Linked DNA regions of Homo sapiens. The protein of the gene in region 2 interacts with the protein of the main gene of each other region in a biochemical or structural test. Each region holds a gene or a part of one and is shown on either strand. Other genes may lie near its edges. The genes, in order: GCK and GCKR.

Region 1 (15,863 bases), on a different chromosome or scaffold from region 2:
TCTCTGCAGAGAAGGCTAATGCCTGCCTCAGAGTCTCCCAGAAACTGCAGTCTTTATTTATTTATTTATTTTTATTCTACTTTTTTTTTTTTGAGATGGAGTCTTGCTCTGTCATCTAGGCTGGAGTGCAGTGGCTTGATCTTGGCTCACTGCAACCTCCCCTTCTGGGTTCAAGAGATTCTCCTGCCTCAGCCTCCCTAGTAGCTGGGACTACAGGCATGCACTACCACACCTGGCTAATTTCTGTATTTTTAGTAGAGACAGGGTTTCACCACGTTAGCCAGGCTTATCTCAAACTCCTGACCTCAGGTGATCTGCCCGCCTCGGCCTCCCAAAGTGCTGGGATTATAGGCGTGAGCCACGGTGTTCGGCCTGGAAACTGCAGTCTTAAATAGACGTACTACACAGTCTAACTCAGTGCTTTCCAACAGGAGTGAAAGCCAGAAATGCAAGCCACTTATGGAATTCTAAATATTCTAGTAGCCACATTTAAAAAGTGAAAAGAAATAGGTGAAATTAATTTTAGTAATAATCTAATATCCAAAACATTATCATTTCAACATGTGATCTATATAAAAGTTATTAATGAGATGTTTGCATTCTTTTTTGTATGAAATCTTCAAAATATTGTGTGCATTTTACACTTTTGGCATATCCCAACTCACACCACATTTCAAGTGGCCAGTGGCTGTCATATTGGTCAGTGTAGGCTGAACTCATGTCCTGGGTCTGTGCCCATCTGTTTCTCTCTATCCTTCTGTCTCTCTCTTTTGTCTCTCTCTCTCTCTCACACACACACACACACAAACACACACACCACATACACACACCATATACATTCTACCCTCAGTTTATTCCAAACAACACTAATACAGGCAGTTTTGGTGTGGGAAGGACTAACCTTATCAGACAACTATATCAGGAGTGTGAAAGGATAATATTTTTAAAGCAAAATATTGACTTGCATACTAAGTGAACAACCGCCAAATATTTTATTTACTTGTGAATTCATGTGGGAATCAATAAGATGTGACAGCCCAAGGAGCTGGGCAGTGCTCATCTTGTGGCTTATTCCTGGGCCTGGTTCAGAGAAGAATTCAAAGAGCCGGTGCATGTGTAGACGGTTAGGAATGCCCAGATGAATTTGCTTAATAGATGCAAAATTGGCTTCTTCCACAGAGAAGGGAAAAATCAGTTGTGCTTCCACTGGACAACATTTATTTGCACGTTAATAGAGAAGAACCATTGCCTTGCTATTAGTTATAATTTAGAGTTGTGGCAGGGCACGGTGGCTCACCCCTGTAATCCCAGCACTTTGGGAGGCAGAGGCAGGTGGATCAACGGAGGTCAGGAGTTCGAGACCAGCCTGGCTAACATGGTGAAACCACGTCTCTATTAAAAATACAAAAATTAGCCAGGCAAGGTGTGCCCATCTGTAATACTAGCTACTTGGGAGGGTGAGGCATGAGAATCACTTGAACCTGGGAGGTGGAGGTTGCAGTGAGCTGAGATCATGCCACTGCACTCCAGCCTGGGTGACAGAGAGAGACTCTGTCTCAAAAATAATAATAATAATTTAGAGAGTTTTGAAACAGCTCAAAGATAACAAAAGGTTCAGACACCCCATCAAATCAGATAACTGGACACCTATGATCTTTTTGGTTCATTTTAGTCTTTCACAATTTACCCCTGTAGAGCTTGGATTATAACATGATCCCTTACTTTATGAAATCAGCTTGTTGAACAAGCAGACTCATGTGGTAGAATCCTAATGGTACTTGATTTTGTTCATCCACTGTTCCAGCATGGTCAGTGGAGTGGGCTGGTGGCCTGCTTTCAGGATGGAAACTCAGGCAGTTCGTGACTTTTGTAATCTCTCTAAGCAACAGAAAATGCCATAATTCCAGAAAGTCTCAAGTTTCAATTTAGTAATTAAATTGCCAGGCGCCAGATAAAATCAAAACTGAACACCTGTCTGGGTGAAAACGCCTTTCCTCTTGGGGCCTTCAGGAAGGGGTGCCCCTCCTTTCTCGCTCACCTCCTTCCCACTGACCCCCAGGTACAGGGATTGCAGCAGGGCTTGTGGGGAGGGAAGGAGGCAAGCTGAGAGCTCTTACTGGGCTGTCCTGTAGGCAGGAGACTTTGTATGCTCTGGATCTGGCTGAGGTTTGAGCTGTCACTGCCTGTCTCTCTGTCTCTGTTTCTCTCTCTGGTGCTTTGGATGTCCCCTGCTGCTCCTCTGGTACTCATGAGGATCACTTTCTCCTCTAGCTCTTGGGTTCTCAGATGAAGGGTGACGGGAGCACTAACTATTCTCTCCTGAGAAGTCGTCTCCCTACACTCCAGCTGTCTGACCCTCTTACCCCTCACGGCGCATGAGGGGCTCAGGAGGCATGATGCCAGGTTCTGGGCATTTCCTCTAGAAATTTGCATGTTACCTGGCCCCTGCTTTGGTGTCCATGTTCCTCATGTCTTAGTGCCTTGCCTGTATTTGCAATGAGAAGCTGGTTGTGTTTCAAATGGGTACCTCTCTGCCTTTCACAAAGGGCCCATGCAGGGAGGCACCCAAGCCAGTGTATTGAGATGGGGTGCGAGCAGTGGGCCAGGGGAGGCTGTGTGGTTGGGTGTGGGGGTCCCAGGGCTGCTGCCCACCCGCTGGGCTGTTGGGCAGAGTTTGCTGAGTGCCCAGCAAGCAGCCTCTTCTCTGCACAGCCCCAAGTAGCTGGGCAGTGCCCACTTTGTGGCTCATTCCTGGGCTTGGTGGAGGTGGTGTAAATCCCACCATCTCCTCTTCTAGAGGGCTGGCCTTGGTAAGATGCTCACACTTTCTGGGCCTCAGTGTCCTCATCTGTAAACTAGGCATGATCATAGTTCACACTTCACTTGGCATCATGGGAGTGAATCAAGGTGAGCTGGCGAGGGGCCAGCTCCCAGGAGGTAGATGGTGGCCATGATCATGGTGATGTGCGCACTGAGACCCTGGGATCCCCCTTGGCTGGTCCCCAACCCATCTGTCACAGACAAGACACCACAGCAATTCCAATTTTGCAACAGAGTTTATTGAGGTGCCCCCCCGTGGGCCTGGCCCTGCCCCTCATTCCTCTTTCTCGTCTCCATGGGTGATGATGTAGCACAGTGACTTGTAGTCGATGTTCCCCGCCAGGTCCATGGGTGTCAGGGCGAACATCTGCTCCACCTGCAGGGGACACTGGTGAGTGGCAGTCCCCTGGCTCCTGGCCCAGCCCGGCAGAGACCTCACCTGAGTCCTGTGGCCTTTCTGTCTGCCCCCTGCATCTGTGCTTTTTGCCTTAGCTTTTCAACCCTAGACCCCAGACTCTGGGTTAATGTTTTTCTCTTGGCTGACTCTGGGCAGAGTGAGGAGTCAGTGCAAATGTGGGCCAAGAGGCAAAGGACGCCCCTCCAGCCACAGGCACAGGCCCACCCCGAGTGTACGAAACCTCTCCCTATCCACTTCCCCCCAGGTCTGTGCACAGTCTCCCTGCCTGGCGCACCCTGCCCTCTTTTCTGACTCCACATCTTTACCCTCTAGGTCTCAACAGAGATGGCACCTCCTCCAGAAGGGCCCTCGGCTCACCCTTCCAGCAACTGCCTCACTGGTACTGGGCTCTGGGTCATGGGTGAAGGCCCAGAGAAGGTGCTGGGGATGAGTATTGAAGGGGCTGGGCAGCCTCACCTCAGCTGGAGAGAACTTGTCTGCCTGGGTCAGGAGAAGCTGCTTGAACCTGGGGGGTGAGGAGGGTCTGAGCAGGAGACTGCGGGGGAGTGACTGCACAGGGAAGGTGGGTACGGAGGCTCCCATGGCGCAGGGAAGGGTTGGCTGCACCCCAAAGAGCAGTGTAAGGCCCCGAAGCACAGGCAGCCCCCCTCACTAGGGGCCTCACCCCGCTCTCTGCTTCCACCACGGTGCTCCTCATCTGGCTGGGCCCATACTTACTCATCCTTGTTCACCACCCCTTTGCCGCTGGGGTCAAACATGCGGAAGGCACTCAGGATGGCTTCCTCGGGGTCTGTCCCTGGAAGGCCGAGGCAGCCAGGTGAGCATCCATGTCTCCAGCATCCCAGGTCCCCCGCAGGAGGAACTGGGCTGCATGAGGAGCCTCCCACATCCCAGAAGAGGTGGGGGTATTCCCTAACATAAAATGTTTCTCGGGGATCAGTGGGGCTGGGAATGGTCATCCTCCTGAGGCGGGCAGCTTGGCTGGGAGACTGGAATTTGGGGGTGGGGGCTGAAGGCACATTTCCTGGCTCCAAGTCAGCACTGGGGTGACCAGTGCACATGGGATTCTGGGGCAGAGGATGTGCTTGGAATGGGTCATGGCCAGGAAGAGTCCAGGTGGGTCCAGGTGGGGTTCAGTTAGGGTTCAGGTGGGGTTCATGTAAGGTTCAGGTGGGGTTCAGGCAGGGTTCAGGTGGGGTTCAGGCAGGGTGCAGGCTCCCTGCCTGGCCAAGGGTGCCCAGCTCTGTCCCAGGCTCACCATTGAGCTTCTCCCCAAAGAGCGTGAGGAAGACGGTGAAGTTGATGGGGCCCTTGCCCTCTTGCAGCATGGCGTCCAGCTCCTCCTCTGGGACACTCACCTTCCCTGGTGGGGGTGGGGCATGAGGTGCACACAGGGACCCTGGGTGTCCCCCAGAAGGCCCAGGCCGCCCTCCCTCCATCCTGGCCACAGGGGCTGGAGGGGCAGAGGCAGCTGTGGGTCGGGAAGGTGAAGTGGAAGCAAGGCGTGACAAGGGGGGAAGGGCAGTGTGAGGAGACGGGGAGGAGGGGAAGCAGGGGAGCAGAGTCCTGTCCCCCCAGCCACTCCCACCCGCCCAGCAGCTCAGAGTAGGGACCCCAGTGCGCAGGGTGGGAGGTGGGTGCACGCACCCAGCTGGGAGTAGGTCTCCCTCAGGTCTGCCTTGCAGATGATGCCATCACGATTCTGGTCGATACAGCTGAAGGCCTGTGGGATGGGGGCCTTCAGGTGGGAGCAGCCCCCAGCTCTAGGGAAGGTGGGAGGTGGGGGAGAGACCTGGGTGGTGTGAGAGGCAAGGTCAGGGTAGAAGGGGGGTATGTATGTGGGGTGGGGTGGGGGGGCCAGGATGGGATCTGAGGCTACTGGGAGTGGGCACTCACTTCTTTGAACTCCTGTATCTGGGCTTGTTCAAACATGGAAAAGACGTTGGAAGAACCACGTTGGGCCTGCTTGGTGGCTGCCACCTTGCCCCGGGTCCCCGCCTTCCTGCTGGCCTGCAACACTGTGAGTAGGGAGGGGTCCTCTCCCCAACTCCTCAGAGTCTCCCCACCCCACCCATCATGCACAGTCCCAGAGCATTCCCAGGAGAGCCAGGGCCAGGATCCTCTTCCTCTCCCTGGGGACCACCCTCAACCCAACACAAGCACAGAAAACTCTGCTCCCCCAGCCCAAAGGCCAGCACCTGGGAGACCGCTAGCCTTTCTTCCCCAGCAGGCACTCACCATTCTCTCTGCAGAGGTGTGGCTGCTGTCGTGGTGGCAGGGCCCAGCCTCCTTTATGTCTCAGCCTTATCACCTGAAGGTCCAAATAAGGAGAGGAACAGAGGATAGGCCCAAACTTGGCAGCCCCCGCCTGGGCTGGGGGAGGCCTAACAGATTCCAGCCACATTCCTGATGACCTTCATGTCCTCAACGTGTAACATCCTGCTGTCTATCCATCCTGGCAGGGCCAGACACAATGTCTGCCTGGAGCAGAGCAGGCTCAAAGCTCTCACCACCCTAGGTCCTGATGAAGGGATCCAGTTACTCCTGTATCTGACCACCCCTCCTTGCCAGTCCAGCCAGAACCCTGGCCAGTGCAAGAAGACAGCTGGTGAGGGCCAGTCCAGGGCCCCCGCCAGGCATGGGAGGGCAGTGTGTAGTTCTGAGGATGGTCTGTGGCCTGAGACCCCCGGGGCTTCCCAGAGGTTTTGGTGACCCTAGGCTCTGACCTTTTGCCCCTCTGACCAAGGGGCAGAAGGCATCCCTGAGCTAGCTGTGACCCCAAGAAGAACACTTTGCTTGGCTTTGGGGCAATTCCAGAGGGTTAAGGAGCTCCATCAGCTGCCCTCCCATGCAGTCTACCTTGCTCCCAGTCTGCCCTGCTGTTTGGAGCCTTGCCTTCCTCAAGCCTCATCTCAACCACACTACTTCAGAATGCTCTCCCTAACATCCTCAGCAGGGAGCTTCTGGGGCACATTTCCCATTTGCCTGGTGGCTGATGTGTTTGTCATTCCTGGCTTCTGTGCCCCTCCTGAGCACCCCACCTGGTTGACATCTGTATCCCCAGAAGGCCTGGTGCACAGTGGGCCGATGGGCAGGCCTGCGTGATGCTGTTCCAGAGAAGCAGTCTCGCCAGCTTCTGGGGCCGAGGGCACAGCAGAGGGGCTGGGGAAACAGGGGACATCCTGGAGGCAGCAGGAGTGGGCCACCCCAGGCTGGGCTCACTGGCTGCTGCCCCTCCACTGGAGCCAGACCTATGTCTGTCAGTAGCTGGCTGGTAGAGTGCAGGAGCTCTTATCTGTCAGACCCAATACCCTTTTTATATAACAAGAGTTTTCTTTTAAATTTCTTAAATTCCCTTTTTTTTTTTTGAGACAGAGTCTCACTCTCGCACAGGCTGGAGTGCAGTGGCGCGATCTCAGCTCACTGCCACCTCTGCCTCCCGGGTTCAAGCCATTCTTGTTCCTCAGCCTCCCAAGCAGCTGGGATTATAGGCATGTGCCACCACACCCAGCTAATTTTTATATATATTTTTTATTTTATTTTATTTTTAGTAAAGACGGGGTTTTATCATGTTGGCCAGCCGGTCTCGAACTCCTGATCTTAGGTGATCTGCCTGCTTCAGCCTCCCAAAGTGCTAGGATTACAGGTGTAAGCCACTGAGCTCTGTCACCCAGGCTGGAGTGCAGTGGCATGAGTAGAGCTCACTGCAGACAACCTCCTGGGCTCAAGTGCTCCTTCCTGCCTCAGCCTCTGGAGTAGTTGGGACTACAGGTGCACACCACCCTGCCCAGTGTTTTTTTTTTCTTTTTTTAATTAATTAATTCATTTTTGAGACAGAGTTTCGCTCTGTTGCCCAGGCTGGAGTGCAGTGGTGCAATCTCTGCTCACTGCAACCTCCGCCTCCTGGGTTCAAGCAATTCTTCTGCCTCAGCCTCCTGAGTAGCTGGGATTATAAGCACCCGCCATCATGCCCGGCTAATTTTTGTATTTTTAGTAGAGTTGGGGTTTCACCATGTTGGCCAGGCTGATCTCGAACTCCTGACCTTTTGATCCACCTGCTTTGGCTTCCCAAAGTGCTGGGATTACAGGCATGAGCCACCGCGCCCAGCAGTGCCCCCCCGCCCCACCCTTTTTTTTTTAAGAGATGGGGTCTTGCTATGTTGCCCCAGGCTGGTCTCAAATTCCTGGCCTCAAGCAATCCTCCACCTCAGCCTCTCAAAGCACTGAGATTATAGGCATGAGCCATCACACTGGCCCATAACAAGTGTTTTATGACACCTCCTTTGTTATCTAGAAAAGAAATTCATTTTATCTATTTCAATTCAGTCATATAACCTACCTACGAATAGAATTTTAATAATTAATACAATGTCCTGAACTGTAATATAAAGGAGAAATAGAAAGCAATTGATATTAAAATGTGTTCCACTCTGTGAATGCTTGAGCATAACAGTAATGATAACAAAATAATCAGATGCTTGCACCAACTTATAAGGAATAATTTAGACTCAAGAGAACTAAGAAGAGCCAAAGCAATTCCACATGAGAAGTAGCAGAAAACAAGAAATCTGAAGGGGGACATGACTTTTCAAAATCACAACTTTGGGTTATGATCTGAAGGAAACAAAACAGTTGTTCCTAATTAGCTGGGTAATATCTCTCATCAAAAAAGGAATGCATGAAAATCACACAAATATGTTTCTATGTCACTGTATTTTATGCTGCAGAAAGATGGCATTATGCCTACGCTTGGCTAACTCTAAATAGGCGTTCCACTGACAGGAGCATCTGGAGGGACCTTAGAAATCCAACATGTATCTGGGCCCCTACTCACTGGCAAACCTAAGTGACTCTGACTGGACAGGACGGTGCTGAGACTGACCTGCAGCAGGACCAGCCTCATTCCCCCACTTCTCCAGAGCAGCACCTGGCCTGGCACTCCCTCTGCACACATTCCATGGGCAGGCAAGCAGGGGCCCGGGCCAGGCAGTGTACTGTCCACTGCTCTGCCATCCCCCATGACACCCCATTCCTGTTCCTACAGCCTGGTCTGTCACTCCTCACACTCCCCTTGGCACAGATGGCTGGAGGAGCTGTCTGGAGGGCATTGCCGAGATACTGAAGTGTCTTCATGCATGTGACGCAGACTCTTTATAGATTGTCCCCACAGTCCTAATGCACAGAAGTCAAAGAACAGTGGACAGGCCATGTTTAAAACTTTTAACATTTTTAATTAAAAAACCCACACAATCTTAGGTTGGGCATGGAGAGGGTGGCATGTCATATGATGGGGTTGTCCCTTGGGGTGTGCTGAATGCTGCTTGGGGTTTCTTCCTGAGCCAGCGCTATGGGAGCTGAAGATGTAGGGCTGGCCCTTCTCCCCTTTGTGGGCCCCTTGGGGCAGAGGCTTGGGGGCTCTGTCTCTTGCACCTGCTGCGAGGGTCCATCCCAGAATCACAAGCCACTCAGTGATGGTATGGGAGAGAAAAGGTCTCTGGGGGTATTCAAAGCTTGGGACACCTCCTCCATGGAGCCCCCTCCCATTGCTCCCTGGGCCTCTTGAGCCTCAGGCAAGAAAATGGCCAGGACTGGGTGATGAGCAGCCCCTGGCTGCCCTTTTGGCCCAGGTCTAGGTCTGGTCAAGCTGTTGGAGCTGCCTCCCCACACAGGATGAGTTCCCAGGGAAGTGAGGCCACAGCAGGATCCAGAGGGCACCCCTTCCCAGAGCCTGGGCCCAGGCGAGGCCAACAGCTCTGACAGTGTGGAAATGCATCAAAGTCCTGAGTGAGCAACTCCCTTCTGGGAAATTGATTCCAGCGAGAAAGGTGGGGGGCTTCCAGAGTCTCTGTTCCTGCTCCTGCCGCACCCCCGTTAGGGCCCTGGGGCTGTCCCACCGAAAAACTGAGGGAAGAGGCCCGCTCTGTTCCCCAGCGGTATGGCAGGCGGCCTGGGTCCTGACAAGGCCAGGCCTCCTGCCCCGCCAGGCTGCGAGCACGTGTGGGGAGCACTTCCCCATGGAGCCTGGGTGCTGTGGGGCTGTGGCATCCTCCCTGCGCTTGCGGCCACTGCTCTCACTGGCCCAGCATACAGGCCTTCTTACAGGCCACCGCCGAGACCAGGGCCGCGCCCCGGCCACTGCCCTCCTCCGACTCGATGAAGGTGATCTCGCAGCTGGGCGTCAGCCTGCGCACGCTGGCATGGAACCGCTCCTTGAAGCTGGGCAGAAGAGAAGCAGGGCTGCCGTCCCTCCTCCCACCTCATCCTCCACATTCATTACCGGGCGCCCTGCACGCAGTCGACCCTTCCCCCAAATCTAGGCCAAGGGGGACGAGAAGAGGACTACGAAATCTTGGAGCTTGGGAACCGCAAGGAACCTTGGAGCGCGCGCTTTTTGGGCCCCACTTTACCAGGGAGAGAGCGGGGCGGGCTCACCTGGGGTGCAGCTTGTACACGGAGCCATCCACGCCCACAGTGATGCGCATTACGTCCTCGCTGCGGCTCTCGCGCATGCGGTTGATGACGCCCGCCAGCCCCGCCGAGCACATGTGCGCAGCGCGCGTAGACACGCTCTCGCAGGCGCGGCGCACGATGTCGCAGTCGGTGGTCGAGGGTCGCAGCCCCAGCGTGCTCAGGATGTTGTAGATCTGCTTGCGGTCGCCCGTGTCGCTGCGGGGCGGGAGGAGGTAGGGCGGTCGCTGAGTGTCGCTCCGACAGTCCATCCCCCTCCAGCGGCGGCCTCTCGTTCTCCAGGGAGGGGCCCCGGCCAGCCGTCCCCCCAGCGGCGGCCTCTTTCCCTCGCTGAGCCGGGACCCCTCTCTGGAGAAATGGGGGCGATCCCGCTCACCTCACCCAGCCAAAGCGTTTCCGCCAGGGACTGGTTAGTACTGCCCCCTCTAACTAAGCCCAGGGTCTCCGTCCTAACGTGGGGGTGTCAACCATGCCGCGCCTTGGGGTTGTGAGTGATGTGAGAGGATGGCCACGGCGGGCAGGGAGCACCGAGGGGACTCACGGATGGGGACCAGTGCCCGGACGCAGGCTCGCTCCCATCCCTGCTCTTGGCATCCCCGTCCGGACCCCGCCTCCTCCCCTTGGGCCCTCCCCCTCCTCCCCGTCTCGGGCCCCGCCCCTCCCTTTGCATCCCCGTCCTGTCCCAGCCTCCTGCCCTTGGACCCGTCCCTGCCCCGCCCTCGCCTCCAGCGCCCGGCCTCGGGCCCCGCCCACTCCCCCGCCCCCTGTGCCCCGCCCCGGGCCCCGCCCACGCCCGGAATCCCGCCCCAGGCCCTAGTTTCCCATCCCTGCGCCCCGGGCCTGGGACTCAGCGTCGCCCTGAGACCAAGTCTGCAGTGCCCGGGCGTCCCCAGCCCCTGCCCTTTGCACCCACCCTCCTCCTCCGCACACCTCTCCACCTGCGACACGAAGCGCGTCTCGAAGGCTCCGCGTGTGCGCAGCTGCTCGGAGGCCTCCCCGTGGAAGAGCAGGTTTTCGTCCACGAGCCTGAGCAGCACAAGCCGCACCAGCTCGCCCATGTACTTGCCACCTATGAGCTTCTCATACCTGGACATAGGGCAGGTCCATTACATCAGCAGGCACGAGGGAGGGCCCCTCATGCAGGTGGAAGCCGGGAGCCGGCCCCACTGCTCCCCACTGAGGTCACGAGGCGGCCACGTGGGGCACTGCGATCCCCACTCCCCCAGCTGGTTCACGTCTTTCCCTCGTTAATGAGCCAGAGCTTTAGAAATGTCAGGGATTAGGAACGTGCACGTTCAAGTCAATCACGGGAGCAACTTTGGCCTGCCCCTGGGCCCACTGCAGTAAAGGGAAAGACAGATAGTTCAAAGACCCCATCCAGTCCCTCCGAAACCTTCCTTGCAGGGGGCCCTGCGCCGAGCACGGGACCTACAGCTTCAGTCTTCCTTTAGCTGCATCCAGAGCTGCTGTTCATTGGCCAGTTATGGTTGGGAAAACTAAGACTTGGAGGGTTAGTGCCCAGTCAGAGGCACGCACCATGTTGCTGGCACTTTCTTGCTTAATCTATGACCTTCCGTATTTAATTTAAATAAATCGAATACTACTGACCTATAATAATAGAGGCCTGCGAGCGGCAGAGAGGACGCTAATAAAGTAATTAGCATAGGCCTGGCACAGTAGGTGGTAAACAAGTGATAGCCATGATTAATGATGAGCTCTCTGTGGGTTGGTTTCCAAGCTGTGACTGTCAACCCGCAGCATTCCACAAAAGACTAATATTCTTTCTGTGAATGTGGCCAAATACATACTTTGGGGAATGTTGGGTTAAACCCAGGAACCTTGCTGGGGGCGTCTCAGAGCCTCCTCTGCATGCACGATCACCTGTCGGAAGGAAAGAGGTCTGGGCTTATCACATCACAACTGGGACTAACCCTTCATCTCTCACAGGGGCAGGTCATGACTGAGCAGAAGGGATGGAGCTTACGAACGGATTGTCAGTTTGCTTTTCCCCAGAGTTGTTTAAAAACAAGCCCATTATCTGCAATGGCCCGGCTCCCATCTGCCGCTGCACCAGAGCGGCCCAGGGCCTGGGTTGTGGGGGAGGGGGGCATCCTTACAGCTGCTGACCGGGGTTTGCAGAGCTCTCGTCCACCAGGCGGTCATACTCCAGCAGGAACTCGTCCAGCTCGCCGGAGTCCCCGAAGGCGCCCCACTCGGTATTGACGCACATGCGGCCCTCGTCCCCCTCCACCAGCTCCACATTCTGCATCTCCTCCATGTAGCAGGCATTGCAGCCCGTGCCTGGGGTGGAGGTCGGGGGGACTGTCAGCGAGAGCTGCACTGCCCCGGAGTAGGGCCTGGTTCCTGCCCACAGGAGTCCCTCTCCCGCTCCCCCATGCCTGTCTCTGCTTTGTCTGGAACAATGGAAAGGCGGCTCTCCCTGGGGCTGGAAGACCTGGGTTGCTTCAGTGGCCAGGGACAGCTTTCAGGGCTGTCCTCTTTCCTAACAGGCAACAGTAACACCTTCCCTGCCTGTTACCTAGGTGGTTGGGAGGACTGAGAGAAACAGTGTGTATCAAAGAAATGGTTGTGGGACGTTATCATTTTATTTTGTCTATGTACGACCCTTGTTTTCTGGCACTGTCCATGCACATGTTTGAGCTTCTTTGTCATGAGACATGTTTGGATGGCAACCCAAAGTGAGTAAGGCATGGTGTGGGCCCTTGGGAGCAGCCCAGAGGCTCCTGTAGACAATTCCGGATATGGAATTTTGTAATTTGCTGGCCCCTGTGCAGAGTGACAACATGGAGTCTTTTGTTCACAAGTTATTAAGAGTTTCAAACTGCTGACAGCAGAGCCTCAAGCTAGCATGACTGTGTGGGCTGCACACCCCCAAAGCTGTCAGGGACAGCAACTCAAATGCTGGTCAGTCGAGCTGCCACATAGGAATCAGGGCTCAGTGATGCTTAGACTTCCAGTTTTTATTTATTTATTTATTTATTTGGAGACAGAGTCTCACTCACTCCATCACCCAGGCTGGAGTGCAGTGGCGTGATCTTGGCTCACTGCAACCTCTGCCTCCAGGGTTTAAGCAATTCTCCTGCCTCAGTCTCCTGAGTACCTGGGATTACAGGCATGCGCCATCACACCCAGCTAATTTTTGTATTTTTAGTAGAGACGAGGTTACACCTTGTTGGCCAGCTAGTCTTCAAATCCTGACCTCAAGTGACCCGCCTGCCTTAGCCTCCCAAAGTGTTGGGATTACTGGCGTGAGCCACCTTGCCTGGCTGCCTTCTAGTTTTTTATGAACAAACAGAAATCCAGACTTTGATGTGAATTCTCCTAATTTTCAGATCTTGGTAATTGTTATAAACATGTTTTTAAACACTGAGCAGAGTCAAGAGTGGATGTGGGGCAGATGTGAGTGGTGGGTCACTCCTTGCCACCTCTGCCCCAGGAGGGGTTATGCCTGGGCCCAGCAGCTGCAGCTTGGCTTGGTGGGAATTCATGTGGAAGTGTCTTGGGGAGCCCCAGGCAGTTCCAGAGGATAGGGTGGAAAGGGCTGGGGGGATCACAGCCAGGGATGGCTGGGGCTCACGTTTAGATGCTGGATTTAAAGACAACGTTCCTTCTGAAAGGTGAAAATGGAAGTAAGAGAAGTATAGAACCACACGGCTGTGCGCACAGCAGATAACTGATCTGATTGGATTGCTCCTCAGTGAAGGCTGGTTATAATGACCTCCGGAACTTCTGAGAAAGGTCCGAGTTGGTGTGGAAGACCCCTCTGCTGGGAGGGGCGGACTGCTGCTCCCTTTCCTGGTACCTGCCTTCACTTTGGGTGGGGGCAGGGGCAGGGGCAGGCCCGTGGAAAGACCATTCGGGTGGAGATGGTACCACTTTTGCTTATCCTCTTCCACTTGGACCAATCTGTCCAGTTGGTCAATTTACCAGATAAGTGTTTTAATTATAATCCTGATGGGTGAGGTGGATATGCAGCTGGCATACCATCTGATGCAGGAATGTGGCATCATGGCGTTGAAATGCTTCCTACTGTACACGGTGCTTCCATCTTGATACCCCAAGACCACCCAGGCTGTAGCACCAGGCTCTGCTCTGACATCACCGGTTGTTAAGTAGTTTGGTCCTCACCCCACAGGGCCCTTGAAGCCTGTTGTACACAGGGAGCCTCAGCAGTCTGGAAGGGGCAGGGGTGCAAGGAGCCCTTACCCACGATCATGCCGACCTCGCACTGATGGTCTTCGTAGTAGCAGGAGATCATCGTGGCCACCGTGTCATTCACCATTGCCACCACATCCATTTCAAAGTCCTGCCAAGAAGCACAGAAGCTGCAGTGCTGGAAGCCAAGGAGAAAGGCAGGCAGTGCTGGGGTGGGTGGCCCAGGGCAGCCCCCCCGGCAGGTACAGGTGCCCCCTCACCCCTCTCCGTTTGATAGCGTCTCGCAGAAGCCCCACGACATTGTTCCCTTCTGCTCCTGAGGCCTTGAAGCCCTTGGTCCAGTTGAGAAGGATGCCCTGTGGGGAGAGATAGGCCTCGTGGCTGCTAACATATACTGGAGGCAGGGTGCTAGGGCCTGTCACTACCTCCTGCACAGGGCCATAAAAGTATGCACCCTACTTTACAGCTGAGGAAACAGGCTCAGAGCAGCCCCATAGCTTTGAGAGGTTTTGGGAACGATTCTCCTTGAAGATATCATATTTCTGCAGGGCTGAGTCCCAGCCAATTTAAGAATGTTGTACTGCACAGCTCTGAGACGTCATCCCAGAGTCAAGGCAGGGCGTGGGGGGAGCAGCTTTGTGTAAAATCAGGATTTCCCTCCTGCAAGGTACCCCGCTGCATGCACAGGTGCCACCTGGCCCTCTCTGTCTCTGTAGGGACTGGGGCTTGGAAAACCACATGAGATGTTGCTTTGGCTGCTGCTTCTGCCGTGAGTGAGGATCTGGCTTTCTCCCTGACCCAAAGGTCTCGTGTTTTATGTGTGTGCATATATAACTGTGTGTGTGTGTGCATGCACAGATGTAACTGGCAGGCCACTTTGCTAGCTTGCAGGAAGGGTAGAATCTCAGTTCCTTCACATTTCTGACTCAGCTAGAGGCAGTGTGACATGACCGTGGCCTGCAGGTGACCCAGAGCCCGGCTGCCTGAGTTTGAGCCCCACCCTACTGCCAGCTGCTCTTTCCACTGGAGTGGGGTGATCATAGCTGGTGCCTCACAAGGCGCACAGCCAGAATTAGCTAATGTGATGCTTCTTTTCCACAGCATTAGAGGTGGCAGGTGACATGGCCACAATTTGAATCCAGATCTCCCTTCTGAGCACATGGTATGGGGGCTACATTTGAAGGCAGAGTTCCTCTGGGGTGCCTGTGCCTCCCCTCATCTGCCTTCTGCCCCTCCACCCGGCCCACCTTATCGATGTCTTCGTGCCTCACAGGAAAGGAGAAGGTGAAGCCCAGGGGCAGCTTCTTGTGTTTCATCTGATGCTTGTCCAGGAAGTCGGAGATGCACTCAGAGATGTAGTCGAAGAGCTGGAAGATGCACGCCATGGTGACCATCTGGCATGGGGGGGTGCGCTGGCCGGCAGCCCTCCCCACGGCCTCAAGCCAAGCTATTCCTCAGGGACACTGCAACACCTGGCCACTGAATGCCAGGCCTGTCCACAGTTTCCCTCTCCTCTTCCGCTGCTGCTTGTTGGGCTCAGGCCCTAAGCCTCCCCCATGCCAGAGACCTGCTGACAGTGGCCCTCGGGACAAGGCAACACAGGGCAGGCTGGTCCCTGGCCCGGCTGTGCTCTGTCAGCCTAGCCCTCCCAGCTGAACCTTGTGAGGTTCAGCCTCAGGCCTGGCCAGCTATTCCTGAGGCTCCACATGGAGGCACATCCTTGATTTCTGTCTCCAGCACCCGGAGTCTCCTTTTCTACTTCTAGGGGCCCTGGCCACCCATCCTTACTGAAGACCAGCCCCGACTCCCCTCACACGGGCCTCTCCATGGAACTGGATACTGCTGAATGCTCTGCTGACTGACCAGGCTCCTCACTGGCTGCTGGGGCCAGGGAGGTCCCCACACCATCCCACTGCCTTGATTCACACCCAGCCCACAGACAGACTAGCAAGCTGCAGGGGTGTGAGGACGGGTAGCCACG
Region 2 (7,267 bases):
TTACAGTGAGCCGAAATCATGCCATTGCACTCCAGCCTGGGTGACAGAGCGAGACTCCATCTCAAAAACAAACAAACAACAACAACAAAAAACTTTAAAAACAGGCAGCTGGCTGCATTGGCCAGCCAGTATATTTTGCTTACCCCTGGACTAGTCCACCTATCTTGGTTGTTGATTGATTGATACACAGTTATTCTGAAATAGAATCCCTTCCCCATCTTCCCACATTCACACAACTTGATCCAAGTTAGTGAAACTAAAACCAAAATTCCTTGAGCAAACTTCCTGCCTTCTAGCACCGATCTCATTGATCTATCTTCCATGCTATTCCATTCCCACTCACTTCCTCTCTCTAAAATTGATCCACTCAACCCATCTTTTTACTCACAGAGAGTCCCACAGAAATGCCAATGACAATCACTCTCTTCTTCCCGGCAGCCACCTAGGAGAGGAGGATGGACAAGGTAGTGTAACTGGGAGGATTCCAGGGCACAAATCTACTGTGTGAGGATATCAGGGCCAGGAACAGGGGAGGGAGGAAATAGGCTTTGGCTGAATGCTGGGGCTTTTATGTCCCCATGAGAAGGAACAGATAGAGGTCTCTGGTCAATGTCAGTGAAAAGCACAGACCTTCTTCAGTTCCTCAATCCCGTGCAAGGCACTATCTTCTGTCCCCTCCCTAGAGGCCACCACAGACCTAAGAGGACAGACTCAAGGTCAGTGGCAGTGGCTGGAAAGCAGAAGCCTATGGCGTATTAGGGCAGGCTACATTAAGAGATGCGCATAAAGGGAAAACTATCATTGAATGAGCACCCACAGTTTGTTGGTGCATGATAGACACTCCATAGAGTTGAAAAACTCAAATACCTACAACAGCCAGTCAGGCGACATAAGTATGTGAAGTGGGCCAAGTGTGAGGGAATAAGGAATGGTGAGGACTAAGACAAGCCAGACACAATCTCTGTCTAAAGGTATTCCAACTCAATTTCTAAGAAATACTATTTAGGTCAAACAAAATATTCATAGGCTAACTTGGCTTACCTGTCACCACCTGCAATGAGGTAGGTGTAAAGAGGTTTCTGTCCCAGACCTTTCATCAGCTGATTAAAGGACACCTGTCAAGCAGGGAGAGGATGTAAAGAGGTAATGACAGAGAAGAAACAATTATCTTGGATTTTCAACTCCTAGAGGGCAGAGACTATATAATGATTCTCTTAGACCAGTGCTTAACCCAGTCCTACATGGAATCTCGCACTTAAAGCTGCTACTTGGAGATGATTAGTCGGTGGTGCATGGGATGTAGAGACATTGGCAACATACTGGCGGGACTCAGATGGGCTCAGAAGAAATGGGACTTCATGGTGACATCTAGCTTTTGGAAGAGAGAAAGAGCCAGGCTTGGAGTCCAGGTCTAGTGAGGGGGCCACCTGGGAGCTTAGTTATGATGATCTTTATGGTCCTGAGGGTCACCTCCAGAAGTGGAGGGGGAAGAAAACTGGAGACCAGGGTGCTCACCGACATGAGGAATGCCATCCGGCCAGAGGTGCCCCCTCCACTCAGCACAACCAGCCCCCCATCTGGCTCCTGAAGAAGGAAAGAGGCATATATTACCAGGGCCTGGCTCAGGTTGGGAGAAGAATATTCTTTTCTTTGTCAGTAATGCAAGAGGAATTGGAAAGACTCCTTATCCCTCCTCTCATCACAAAATTGAACAAATACATGCAATGTAGTGTAGCAAAAAGAACATTGGATTAGAGAAACCAGTTTGACTCCCATGTCTTGCTCCACTACTTGTTCAAATCCTTACTTCTCCCAGAAAGAACTGAAAGCAGCTTTGTCATCTAAATAAAAGTAAATAATAAAAGCAGCATTATCCAGCAATTATTAGCTCAGTGTATTTGAGCAAGCTACAGTGATTATCCTTTCTAAATCTTTGTTTTTTCATCTGAGGAAAACAAACAGAAGTCATATCAACTTCACAGGCTTTTGTGAGGGTAATAGGTGTGAAAGTAGATTGTCAATTATAAAGTATTAAGCAGAGAAGTTATCATTATTATTTATTAATAAGATGAAAATAAGGATCCAAAAGGGAGGATCTCCAAAAGGGAGAAAGGAGAATGAGATCTATCAAAGTGAGAAATAGAGACAGTAAAAAGAGAAAGAGGGAAACAGAAAAGTTTAGGCAGGGAACAGAAGGAAGGTTAGTACCTTCAGCACTTCCTGAACTTTCCCAGCCACCTGTACCATGGTGGTCAGAATGGATTCGCTGTAGAGTCTCTGTAGGGAATATGCAGGAATGAGAAGCCAAGAAAAGGAGGACGATGAATGGGGGAGGGGGTCTCAGGGTTTCCGATATTAGGAGCCATGGTGAGGGAGAGCAGAGGTGGGGTTGGGGTTGGCATGTTTATTTCCAGGGTCCAGGTCTTGGGTCTTGGTTACCTGGTATGTGGACAGGGCTTGCCCCTCCTCCTGGAAGATCTCAGCATCACATTGCCCTAGCAGTCGAACAATGTTCTCAGCATCTGCTTTGTCTAGATCCTGGGTCAGTGGGTTTGACTTCTCCGTGATTGGCACAGCTGCCTCGTACCCAGACAACTAGAAGGAAGAGGGGACAAGGATGGAGCAGGAAGCCAAAGCCTCATTCATGCCTGCTGAGCTGGAGGTGGGAGTGGCAGCAGGCACAGAGTTTGGACTTACACACACGCACACACATACCACACCAGAAACTCAGCCTGCACTTGGTGCTCTGGGCATATTAGGGAAAGAACATCAGGAAGGAAGAAGAGGTGAGCAGAAACCAGCGGGGAGGGAAGACTGGATGAAAAATAATTCTAGGAATCAGCACAGAAAGCCAACATGAAGAAGGGGTCTCACCTCCCACTTGCCAGGCTCCGGGGTCTCAATGACATGTTGAAACCGTTTTGTGCCTGGCATGGTCCCACGCTGTGGATACACTGTTCCTCCTGCCTCTTCAGCCACACAAACCCCTCTGGTCACAATGACTCTGCTTCCAGTTGGCAGGGCCTTATCTGAGCCCCAGTGATGATTAACCCAAGCACCCTGGGCTCTCAGAGCACCACCCTTTCCTGGTCACTAGGCCCCCAGCCCTCTGGTAACCCCAGGGAAACTCCTGGGCTTCCTCTTTGCAAGCACCCTGACTCGCCAGCCTCTGCTTTGGCCCCTGAAGAGGAAGACCTGAGGCTCGGGACTCTTGCCCTACCGGGACAATGCCCTCTTCTACAGAGGACCTGGAGCCTGGGAGTGCAGGACAACACCCACGGCAGTGAGAATCCCTGGGCAAGTGTCCTCCGAGGCCAGAGATCAGGGTCACCAAGTCAGCACAAGTCAGAGGACCTGGCCCATGGCTTGATCACATGCTCAGCACACACAGTCAGTCCCACTGGTCCCATTTTATCCTCTCCTCTCAGAAAGGAAGGCAGTAGAAGCTTCTGAGCCCCAAGTGTGCACACACTGTACTGGATATTACAGCGGGAAAAATCCCACAGAAACAGAAATACTGCATTGAGAATTAGAAACCAAAGAATCTGCCCTAAATACAATGTTAGCCAACATTTATTTACACTGAACAACACACTTTTCACAGACAGTATCTCATTGGATACACCAACACTAAGATGTTGGTCAATATTGACACCCTCATTTTTCAGATGATGAAACAGGCTCAGAGTAGTTTAGTTGGTTGCTTAAGATCACACAGCTGGACAAATTGGGACTCACACCCAGGTTCTCAATTCAGATTTCAAGCTCAACCAAAGCATGATATAATGTAAGGGCTTACATGTTATTGAACAAAGAAGTAACTAACAGATTGGTGCAAATTAATCTCCATCATCCAGTCACATAGTGTTGTGAGATTTATAAAGATCTTTCCCGTCTCATTTGAGCCTCACAACAACCCTGTGAGATTTCACACGCTTTGCTTTACAGGTGGGAAACCTGAAGCACAGATAAACCAGTTTCTCCAAAACCACACCGTAAGTGGTAGAGCTTTAGAAAAACAAAAAAAGAAAAGAAAGGAATAATAATTTTTTTAAAAAAGCCATAGGTCTTTGCGCTTTGATTCTCCCGAGAAGCCCAACACTCTTAACAATCACTGTATCTCCAGGTTTTAATATAATGCCAGACACATAGGAGATGCTCAATAAATATTTGGTGAATAAATGAAAGAATGAATGAGAAAGCGAACGGAATTAAATGAGATTATGAATGGAAAAGAGACTTAAAAGCTGACGCAGTCTACAAGTAAGGGATTGTTAAAGCAATTATTATCTCCCTCACTCTCTCCCCTCTCCTGTTAGCCCCTCGGGCACTGGAGGTGGAATTCCTCTTCCCAACTTGGCTCTTCCACGCGGGGAGGAAGGGGATCTCCCAGGTGCCGGAGACCCTAGCACCCGCGTCTCACCCCCCACGCCCCCGCCGACTCGTCCGCTTCAGCTGGGAGAGAGAAGGGATAAGGGATGGGGGCTCCGGAGGCGCCATTGGGAGGGTCGTGGGAGGAGCCCCGAGAGGACGGGAGTGAGGGGGCGGGAGGGGAATGACGGCGGCGAGAACCCCGGCTGGGCGGGGCGGGCCCGCGCGTCCCGGCCGGGCTGCGGCGGAGCGAGCGGGGCCAGCGCTGCAGAAGGCGGCGGCTGGCTCTCCGGGACGGTCACATCCCGCTGCAGGGGCGGGCGGAGGCCGCCGCACTGCCTCCCGCACCGGGGACCCAGGCCAGCGTCCGGGCAACGCCCCCTGCTCCCGGACAGACTCCGTGGCCCGCTCGAGCCCTGGGGGCTCCGCAGACCCGCGCCCGCTCCGCCCGCAGCTCGGCCCCGCGCTGCCCGCGTCGCCGGGCCCGCGCCGGGATGGGGTAGGGGCAGCGCCACCGAGTCGGGCGATGGGCCGCCCTCTGGGCACCGAGCAGCCCCCCGAGGCCTGACCAACCGCGAGGACCGGCGGAGGTGGGTGTGGGCAGGGCGGACCGCACTCTGGGGCCGCCCGGGCAATGCGGGGGCGGGAGGGCGTAGAGAAAATAGGGCTGTTGTGAGCTGTGGGGAGCCCAGGAGAGCTGCTGCCCCCCGACCTCCGTGCGTTCTGGGCAGTCCTTGACCCCCCACAACTCCTGCCATCTCCAGGAGCCCCGCCTGGATGTCAAGCGGATGCCAAGCGGATGCCACAGTTCCCCCCCCAGCGGACTCCGTGGGGACATGGCTTCGCTGGTGCCCCTTTCCCCATATCTAAGCCCCACGGTCCTCCTGCTGGTCAGCTGTGACCTGGGCTTCGTGCGAGCAGGTAAGTAAAGGGGAACGGGGCTGAGGGTCAACCACAGCTAGTCAATGGGTGAAACCTGTTAAACACCCTGGCTCCCGCAGACCGGCCTCCCTCTCCTGTGAATGTGACGGTCACTCACCTCAGAGCCAACTCGGCCACTGTGTCCTGGGACGTCCCAGAAGGCAACATCGTCATTGGCTACTCCATTTCCCAGCAAGTATGAATCACCCTTCTGCTCCCCCAACCTGTGTCCTTGGATTTCGGCACATTTCTTCACTTAAGTGGGGGGGATCTGGAAGCTGGCGTATCCTGGCTCAGGCTGCCCTTTTCACGCTACTCCCCCGGAGTGCTTGGATGTTGAAGAGTCTCTGGTTGAGCCTTGTGGCCTGGCACTGGGGTGAGGCTGTCCTCCTCTCCCCTCATCTCCCTGCAGCGGCAGAATGGCCCCGGGCAGCGTGTGATTCGGGAGGTGAACACCACCACCCGGGCCTGTGCCCTCTGGGGCCTGGCTGAAGACAGTGACTACACAGTGCAGGTCAGGAGCATCGGCCTTCGGGGAGAGAGTCCCCCAGGGCCCCGGGTGCACTTCCGAACTCTCAAGGGTTCTGACCGGCTACCTTCAAACAGTTCAAGCCCAGGTGAGGATCTGTGCTATTGGATTCTCTGGCTGCTTACCTGGCTTGCAGCCTCTTACTTACTTCCCCAAGACAAGCAACAGACTAGCTGAGTTGAATAGGATGATTTAATTCATTGTACTGCCAGGAAAGGAAAGAAAAGCAGGTGGGAAGGGGATTGGGTATAGACAGGCTGGTATTGAGTTGTTTGGGGGAAGGCCTTTTAAGCTTCCTGTTACCCAACTTCACATCAGCTGCAGCCTGCATGAGTGAGTAATTAACCTGCAGCCATCCCGCTTTTTGGTCGCTAACCACCTGTCCACCAACGGCTTCCTCCCAGGGAGGGGCTACCCTACACTCCAAGGGCAACATTATGATGGGTCCACCCTTTCTAATCCCCAGCATCTCCATCCTGCATGTCTGCAGTATGGACCCCAGTAACCTGGAGTCTGCCTTCTGCCTTCTCCCTTCTCAGGTGACATCACAGTGGAAGGTCTGGATGGAGAGCGGCCACTGCAGACTGGGGAAGTGGTCATCATTGTGGTGGTGTTGCTCATGTGGGCTGGTGAGTAAGCAGCTAGACAGGGGACCAGGGACTCAGTAAAGGTGTGAGGTGGCAAAGGTTGTCAGGAGAAAAAGAAGTGAGAGATACAGTGGCTCACGCCTGTAATCCCAGCACTTTGGGAGGCCAAGGCAGGCAGATCACCTGAGGTCAGGAGTTTGAGACCAGCCTGGCCAACATGGTGAAACCCGTCTCTACTAAAAATACAAAAATTAGCAGAGTGTGGTGGAGGGCGCCTGTAACCCCAGCTACTCAGGAGGCTGAGGCAGAAGAATTGCTTGAACTCAGGAGGTGGAAGTTGCAGTGAGCGAGCCGAGATCATGCCACTGCACTCCAGCCTGGGCAACAGAACGAGACTCTGTCTCAAAAAAAAAAAAAAAAAAAAAGTAAGAGAAATAGAGTGGAGTGGGGAGATACTTAGTTCAGGAGGGATGATTTGAACTTTGAAGAGAGGGAGAGGAGGCTGTTGAGAGCCCAGAGAGGAGGACTGCATGGGCACCAGGAATTCAGGATGTTCTTCATGGATTTTCTAGAAGCTACGTAGGTATCTCCCTATGAGGGGGGAAGTGGAGATGAAGGCTCAGACTGTATTGTGTTTCAGCTGTAATTGGGCTGTTCTGCCGTCAGTATGACATCATCAAGGACAATGACTCCAACAACAATCCCAAGGAGAAGGGAAAGGGGCCGGAACAGAGTCCTCAGGGAAGGCCAGTGGGGACAAGACAGGTGATGTGGGGGCCAGTGAGGGCGGAAAGGGTGATTCTGCCCCTGAGGGGCAGCCAGGGAAAGGAAGAAGGTCAAAGAGGGGCAGAAAAAGATG

What was found.
Region 1: the proteins of GCKR (region 2) and GCK form a complex in vitro, tested with the Homo sapiens proteins (2 studies listed by BioGRID and IntAct, with this or other methods).

Annotation. Positions count from the first base shown.
Region 1 is NC_000007.14:44,135,827-44,151,689, forward strand, and holds the end of GCK (hexokinase-4), read right to left. Parts: intron 15,250-15,863; coding exon 15,130-15,249; intron 14,239-15,129; coding exon 14,143-14,238; intron 14,111-14,142; exon of another isoform or gene 14,034-14,110; coding exon 13,934-14,033; exon of another isoform or gene 13,863-13,933; intron 13,466-13,862; exon of another isoform or gene 13,345-13,465; intron 12,008-13,344; coding exon 11,824-12,007; intron 10,808-11,823; exon of another isoform or gene 10,801-10,807; coding exon of another isoform or gene 10,793-10,800; coding exon 10,637-10,792; intron 10,319-10,636; exon of another isoform or gene 10,301-10,318; coding exon of another isoform or gene 10,248-10,300; exon of another isoform or gene 10,083-10,247; intron 9,905-10,082; coding exon 9,671-9,904; intron 9,455-9,670; coding exon 9,310-9,454; 3' UTR 8,449-9,309; downstream 1-8,448. Other genes in the region: MYL7 (myosin regulatory light chain 2, atrial isoform), read right to left, coding at 3,095-3,196, 3,596-3,743, 3,956-4,034, 4,497-4,601, 4,886-5,030, 5,135-5,248, 5,477-5,479. UniProt on the Homo sapiens protein: Catalyzes the phosphorylation of hexose, such as D-glucose, D-fructose and D-mannose, to hexose 6-phosphate (D-glucose 6-phosphate, D-fructose 6-phosphate and D-mannose 6-phosphate, respectively).
Region 2 is NC_000002.12:27,492,572-27,499,838, reverse strand, and holds the start of GCKR (glucokinase regulatory protein), read right to left. Parts: upstream 3,001-7,267; 5' UTR 2,935-3,000; coding exon 2,875-2,934; intron 2,596-2,874; coding exon 2,440-2,595; intron 2,278-2,439; coding exon 2,209-2,277; intron 1,585-2,208; coding exon 1,516-1,584; intron 1,116-1,515; coding exon 1,042-1,115; intron 698-1,041; coding exon 631-697; intron 443-630; coding exon 389-442; intron 1-388. Other genes in the region: FNDC4 (fibronectin type III domain-containing protein 4 precursor), read left to right, coding at 5,160-5,292, 5,373-5,488, 5,705-5,909, 6,361-6,450, 7,049-7,173. UniProt on the Homo sapiens protein: Regulates glucokinase (GCK) by forming an inactive complex with this enzyme. Acts by promoting GCK recruitment to the nucleus, possibly to provide a reserve of GCK that can be quickly released in the cytoplasm after a meal.